Homo sapiens: one gene and its partner. The protein of the gene in region 1 purifies or fractionates together with the protein of each later gene. This does not show direct contact. Each region holds a gene or a part of one and is shown on either strand. Other genes may lie near its edges. The genes, in order: PSME3IP1 and PIP4K2A.

Region 1 (3,500 bases):
ATTTTTTCCCATTACTAAATATTACCATAGAATTAAAATGGGTGTTTTGAGCTCTAAACAAAAATATTCAATGTGGTCTAGAAGGCTGAAGGCTGTCTCTTTTCCACCAAATAAGCATCCGGAGACTCGAAAATCAAGACAATTCCACGGCTAGTTAGGAAAAGTGCTGCACAAGGCAAAAGTGCGTCAAAAGTACCCCACAGAGCCCCTTGAACTCTCTGTTTTCTGAAGCTTACTGAATTTGAACTGTTCCTCGTACTCCTGCTGCTTCCTGTCCTTCTGTTCCTGTAGCCTTTCATATAGAGATCGAGGGTCATAAACCTCCTCTGGACATTCTGAAAGGAAAAGGAGAGGGGAGAGAGGTGGACGGGGAGGAGATATACACTTCAGATTGTTTTCATATTATTTTGGAATCACAAAAGGTTTTAAAGACAAAGTCAAGTCTCTGCATGATCTGAGGGTGTGGATAACACAAAAATAGTACAAAGTCCAGTTTCCCTTTGGACCTCAGAGAGGGGCCACCAGTTCTCAAAGCCAACTATCAATGTCAATAGCGCCCATGGCCTGAGACAGTTAACTGATTGAGGGGCCAGCCCAAACCCTCCACAGCAGCAGTGTTCTCAGTTGTTCAGACCATGGATCCACCTGTATAGATGGAGGAGAGGAGCAGAATCTCTTGGAAGGAAGTGTGGTAGGCAGAAAAGAAGCAGGATGTGAGTATGCTGGCTCTGCTCCCAGCTGTGCAGGACCTTACATAGGTGACTTCGCCCCTGAGTCTCAGTTCCTCAACTCTAAAGTATGGACAATTGGCCAGGCATGGTGGCTCACACCTGTAATCCCAGCACTTTGGGAGGCCGAGGCAGGAGGATGGCTTGAGCTCAGGAGTTTGGAACCAGCCTGGCCAACAGATGAAACTCCATCTCTACCAAAAATACAAAAATTAGCCAGGCGTGGTGGCTGGTGCCTGTAATCCCAACTACTCGGAAGGCTAAGGCAGGAGAATCTCCTGAGCCTGGGAGGCAGAGGTTGCAGTGAGCCAAGATCGCGCCACTGCACTCCAGCCTGGGCAACAGAGTGAGACTCCGTCTCAAAAAAATAAATAAATAAAACCAAGTGAGGACAATTAATACCTACTCTGCAGGGTTGCTGTGTGGATTAAAGACCATTATACTGACTGTCACAGTATACCTTCTGGATCTTCAGGTTTTCGAACTTTCTCCCATTCTTCTTGCCTCCTTTTGCGCCGTTCATCTAGTTCTGCCTCAGACACAAACCTCTTTTTGATAATAAGGTTACCATCATCCCCTCCATCCATAATGAAACAACCAATCTACAAAACAAAAACAAAAACAAAAAAAATCATTTCAAGTGAGAACTGCAATTAAAATTCTAAAGAGAAACAAGGAGATTTAGCTCCATCTCACCCAGCAACAAACTAAAAATTATCTTCCAACTTTGAATTGAAAAAATTCTCGGCCGGGTGCGGTGGCTCATGCCTGTAATCCTGGCACTTTGGGAGGCCGAGGCGCATGGATCACGAGGTCAGGAGTTCAAGACCATCCTGACTGACATGGTGAAACCCCGTCTCTACTAAAAATACAAAAATTAGCCAGGCACGGTGGCACGCACCTGTAATCCCAGCTACTCAGGAGGCTGAGGCAGGAGAATCGCTTGAACCTGGGAGGCGGAGGTTGCAGTGAGCCAAGATCACACCGCTGCACCCCAGCTTGAGCGACAGGGCAAGATTCTGTCTCAAAAAAAAAAAAAACTCTCAAATAGTTTAATTTATAGGCCATTGATGAAAGCACATGAATACATTTTTCCTGACATATCAGAGAATTTTTATTAACATCGATGTTATCTACACAGTTGGCAAGAGGACCTGGGATAATTCTTATTACCTGGTGTTCCATAGTAAATCTCATATTGCAGCTATTTCTCTGTCCCTCTAATCTAGAAAAATTGGCCTCCTGAGCATCCCATCCTTTTCCCAGCTCTCATCCTCCTTTATTTCTGTAACATCTGACATTGTTTCTTCTTGAAATTCCTGTTTCTGAGACATTACACTATCTTGATTCACCTGCTCTTGCCTCCAAGTAGATTAAGATGGAGAATCTCAGCTATTGAAGACTTAGTGTTCAAGTCCAGTCTGTATAGCAGGGAAGGTGCACAAACCATGAATGGAGAAAGTGAGACTGGAAGAACAGATCTCCCAACTTCAGTTCCACGTACTTTCCTGAATACTAATCTGACTCTTCATTTATATCTCTTCTGACCTTCCTCCCTGTAAACCCCTTGTCTGTGCCATTTAAGATTTGAACTTCAATCCTTCTCTTTTCTCACTCCCACAATCACCTCAACCATTTTATGCATATTTTGACACAGAAGATTACCGAATCTGTTATTTCTACCTGAGCTTTTCTTCAAAGAGGAGAGAAGGAAATAAAGATAGCAGAGTGTATATTACTTATTACTCCTTTTTTTTTTTTTTTTGAGATGAAGTCTCGTTCTGTCACCCAAGCTGGAGTCCAGTGGTGCAATCTCAGCTCACTGCAACCTCCGCCTCCCAGGTTCAAGCGATTCTCCTGCCTCCGCCTCCTGACTAGCTGGGACTACAGGCGTGTGCCAACACGCCCAGCTAATTTTTGAATTTTTAGTAGAGATGGGGTTTCACTATGTTGGCCAGGCTTGTCTCGAACTCCTGAACTCGTGATCTGCCCGCCTAGGCCTCCCAAAGTGCTGGGATTACAGGGGTGAGCCACCGCACCTGGCCATATTACTCCTTTTAAACTAAACCTCTGTTTTTCTTTATTGGTTTCTTTCCTTTTGAGTAACTGTGGAATTAACCCCTACCCAGACATGTTATTCACAGCACTATGTGCTAACAAGGAGGCACATATTCAATCCAATGTCCATTCCAAGATAACCACTAACAACAAAAACAGTAAGTTTCCACGCTACCACAAAAATAAAGCAGCTAACAGTTAATGAGCTCTTACCATGTATTATATTCCTTTTATGGATATTATCTAATTTACATGATCATTGACCCTATGAGAAATATTATCTGTTTACAGATGAAGTTGAGGTCCAGAGGAGTTAGATTATTTGTCTAAGGTGATACAGGTGGTGAATGGTAGAGCTGAGAACCAAATCCAGGCCTGATATCAAAAATGCATACTCTTACCAACTTTACCATACTCCTCCCCAGAAAACACTAAATCTTAGTTGAAAACAAAGACATGTCGACTTCAGCTTTCTTCCTACTTCAAATTCCAGTGCTGAGAATATTCATGCAACATTTTTATTTAGTAAAGCTAGAAATGGAAGCTGAAAAAACAAACCCAAACGTTCAGAACAAGAGAATAGTCTCAGCCTGAATACTACTGTTGCTGAGGTTTAGTTTAATGTAACAATAAGAGCGAATTGTGAAAATTACTAGAAAGAAATGAAATCAACTGACAGACGCTGTTGCTCCCACCTAAAGCCCACAACCTGGA
Region 2 (4,026 bases), on another chromosome or scaffold:
GTCCATCCAAGAAGAACAGCTCTTAAGACTAAGAAAATAAAAGAACTCAAAGAAATGAATGATTCCTGAGCTTGGCCCAGGCAGCACAGCTCAGTGGTTAACGGTACCGTTGTGAATCCCAAGTACTAGGCACTGTGACCCAGGCGGGTAATCAATTCAGCCTATGCGTGTTCCCCCCCAAGAATTCTTCCTGGCTGCTGCGTGCTCTCCCCACTTTCTCACCCCACACTATCCCCATCTTATTCTTGCAAGGGTTCTTGATGGGGTTCCATGAACTCCCAAGTGGTCCATGGATAGAATTAAAAGGATCCTTGAACTTGCTAGGACATATCCTCTGTATTTTCATTTATTCCTTTAAAAGCCTCATTCTGAGGAGTCTATGGCCTTCACTGGACTGCCATAGGAGTTCCTAGTACAAAAAAGAAAAGAAATGAGGATAAAGGCAGACACAGGGAAATAAGCTAGGGGGGTTTAATATCAGTCTAGGAAAGAGGGAAACAAATCTGGTTAGGAGTGACAGAAGTGAGAATGGAAACGAAGAGACGGATTCAAGGAAACTCCCCAGGGATTCCTAACAAAATGGCATCTTTCACCTTCCTTCTACTTACCTTCCAAAAAAGAGGAATTGCCTCTACTTCCACTCATTCACTCCTTAAGTCTTTAAGCTTTCACAGCCACCCGCAATCAACCACAAGCACAGCCATGACTTTCAAGCACTTGGGAACATCTAATTGTGCCGACCTCTGTTTTCTCCTCCTGTTTCTTCTTCCTCTGTCCTTCCCTCAAAGCCAAGTGTCCCCAGTGTCCCTGCTCCTCCGGTGGAGATCTGACTTACCGATTCTGTACGGGCAGGTCTCAATGGTCTATCCCAGCCCTAGTGGCTCCCGAGCTCCAATCACACCTTTCCAGCATCCTACATGGTACTGTAACTGCAGGATCCACCCACCACCATCACCTGCAATTCCACATTCTTAAATCTAAATTGCTTGTGTCCCTTTCCAACCTACAATTTCTTCTCCCAAATTCTCTAATCTATCATGGGGCCACCATTCTTCTAAGGGCTCATCACATACAGTTGGGGCTGGGGGAGGAATCCTTAGTGGTAAAGTTCTTCCTTCTACTGCTATGTAGCCTGTGGACCTGCAGCATCAGTACCACCCGAGAGTATGATAAATGCACAGTCTCAGGCAGCACTCCCAACAGATCTGCTGAATTAGACACTGCATTTTAATTTTTATTGTTTCACATTTAGTGGGAGCCTCCATCTGTCACCCAAGCTACAGTACACTGTACAACCATGGCTCCCTGCAGCCTGGACCTCCTGGACTCAGATGATCCTCCCACCTCAGCCTCCTGAGTAGTTCAGGCTACAGGTGTGTGCCACCATACCCATCTATGTTTTTACATTTTTTGTAGAGACAGGGTCTTGCTATGCTGCCCAGGCTGGTCTCAAAATCTTGGCCTCAAGCAATCCTCCTGCCTCAGCCTCCCAATGCATGACTAGGATTACATGCATGAGCCACCTACCCAGCAGCAGAGCCTAATTTAGCAGACTTTTTTTTTTTTTTTAAAAGTCCCCGATTGATAAACACCTTAAATTTTGAGAAACAGGGATCTGGTTCTTTTAATATATCACCATCCAAACTGCATTTGAACTTTATTACTTTTAGGCATCATTTACTGAATCCTTATGATGTGCTAATTACAGTGCTAGGCCTTAAACACAGTATCTCATTTAACTCTCAACCCTGTGAAGTCATATCATTATCTCCATTTTAAGAATGTGAAAATTGAGGCTCAAGTGACTAAATCACCTGCTCAAAGAGCCCATCAGTTCCAAAGTTAGCATTTGAACCTCATCTGTCTAACCACAAACCTTTTTTGCCAAATTGCACCAATTCCCTTCAATTCCAAAATTTGTATTTCGAAGGCTATGCTGGCAGAATTAATTACTCTGGTTGCCTGTATTTTCTAATCAACTTAAGGCAGATTTTGGTGGTTTATTATAATTCTTGCCGGCAACCTATCTAAAGACACAGCAGATCAGGATACCCTGGAAATAGAAATCACTGACCTGACATGGGGCATCATTCTGAGTACTGAAGTTTAGTAACTGTAAGTACTAAGTAACACTAAGTACTAAGTATAAATACTTAGAGTTCACTCTAAAGTATCTGACAAATGGAGAGGAAAATGTATTCTGTTCTCTGGTTATAATCCCAAGTTTTAAGGAGTATAAAACGACTTCCCTAATAAACTTTCTGTATGTCTGCTTGGTATGTTTCTTTCCTCTGAAGATTAAAAAGAACAAAAAAATAGTTTGAGGAGACTAGTTCTTGAATGAATGGTAGCTGGGTTCCACTCAATAATTTCATCTAATGTCTAATTTTAATTTTAATGTAATTGCCTTATTATGTCCTATTCAGTCAAAGTCATTTCACAGTCACTCAAATCACTTTAAAACTTAGTTTCCTTATCTTCTTTCAGTGCCCAAATAAAAACCCATGAACCAAAAAAAAAAAAAAAAAAATTATGATGTATCCAATATGGTCTTTGTCTATTCCAAAAACCAGAGCTTGTGGAGAATATAATCAAAGCTACTGACGCTCCACCAAGGACACCATGAATTCTCCAATCCACACACAACACAGCACATGGTGCTCATCAGGCTGGCCCTCACAGATTCCCACGGTAAAGACCCACGGATGTCCAGAACCATCCAGCTCTATTACTCGGACAGAGACCTGCCTGAAACTGCCTGGCAGGCCCTTTCCCCTCTCTGGGGACTGTTCTTTCCCCAACGCCAACAGGCAAGCGCTGCCATGTTTTTATAACTGCTTAGTCCAAGGGACGGCCACAAATGACCAAGGCCAGACCAATCCCAAGTGGAATCCTTCCACGGTATTTTTATAACTGAATTAGAGACAGGAAACCCTTTTGGGGGAGCAGAAATGACAAAATGTGAAATACAGGAACCGTTCATTCCCTGCTCTGTGGAGGAACCAGCCAGCTATGAAGGAGAACTGAGCCAAAGGGTACAGAAAAGTCCCACGCACTCACACACCCACACACTCAAGCACCCAGCTCTTCACATGGTTCCATTACCAGCCTTTCCTTCTACTGTGATAGGCCCCCCAAACCCCTCAATACCTGACATTTTTGCCAAAGCTCATTTCAACTTCTACAGCTTTAAACCAAAAGCCTCTAACATCAATACTTAGCTACTTCTAAATGCTACATGTTTTAAACAAGTTTTATGTGCTTTAAGATTTTTCTATACAGATAATGTTTTCCTTTGGATATTTAAATAGGTTTTAAAATACTAATTTCTAAAAGGCTCACATTTCACTGTGGATAAAAATCTTTTAGAGTATCTATTTAAAACAAGTCTTGGCTCATATCATTCAACATCCTCCCCACACTATTAAAATATCATCTTAAGACGCTTACTGTTTGATCATTTTTAGTTTAATTCTAAATGTAACAAGACAAAACTGCCTTAAGTCTTTTCCTTTATGTATTCAGTTATATTCTCTGCTTAAAATACTTAAAAATTGGCACTGATCCATTCACTGATGGGTATTTTAAGTTACAAAGCAGTAACATATCAAATTAACCACACAATGGCAGGCTTACTCCCGACTATGACCATTGCCCAAATCAAGATTTTCATTACCACCTCAATGGACTTGAACATTTTCACCTTAATTGCAAGTTGTTATGTTTCAATCAAATCGACTTTGGCTTAATAGACTGCAATGCAGTTCAGCTACATTCAATATAACAAACCCTTAGTTCACAGTCTCTTAAAATCACCATAGATTTCCTTCCCCTGTAGTCAAGGTCTTGAAAATTCCCTGAATGTTGCTGCATTTGGAAGGTTATAATAGTAAGACAACTTTTATATAGTATTCTACAAATCCTAGTATAACACTGTGCACCTAGTAGACTGAAAAAACAGAATCTTGAGTTAGACTTGGAAATCATCCAAACAACCTCAGTTCACAGATGCAAACACTGATGCCA

The links.
Region 2: the proteins of PSME3IP1 (region 1) and PIP4K2A purify together in Homo sapiens (co-immunoprecipitation; one large-scale study listed by IntAct). This does not show direct contact.

Annotation. Positions count from the first base shown.
Region 1 is NC_000016.10:57,172,540-57,176,039, forward strand, and holds part of PSME3IP1 (PSME3-interacting protein), read right to left. Parts: exon of another isoform or gene 3,003-3,500; coding exon of another isoform or gene 3,000-3,002; intron 2,482-2,999; exon of another isoform or gene 2,179-2,481; coding exon of another isoform or gene 2,176-2,178; intron 2,150-2,175; exon of another isoform or gene 2,081-2,149; intron 2,067-2,080; exon of another isoform or gene 1,926-2,066; coding exon of another isoform or gene 1,902-1,925; intron 1,752-1,901; exon of another isoform or gene 1,630-1,751; intron 1,447-1,629; exon of another isoform or gene 1,425-1,446; intron 1,331-1,424; coding exon of another isoform or gene 1,316-1,330; coding exon 1,189-1,315; intron 336-1,188; coding exon 237-335; intron 1-236. UniProt on the Homo sapiens protein: Promotes the association of the proteasome activator complex subunit PSME3 with the 20S proteasome and regulates its activity.
Region 2 is NC_000010.11:22,707,553-22,711,578, forward strand, and holds part of PIP4K2A (phosphatidylinositol 5-phosphate 4-kinase type-2 alpha), read right to left. Parts: intron 1-4,026. UniProt on the Homo sapiens protein: Catalyzes the phosphorylation of phosphatidylinositol 5-phosphate (PtdIns5P) on the fourth hydroxyl of the myo-inositol ring, to form phosphatidylinositol 4,5-bisphosphate (PtdIns(4,5)P2). Has both ATP- and GTP-dependent kinase activities.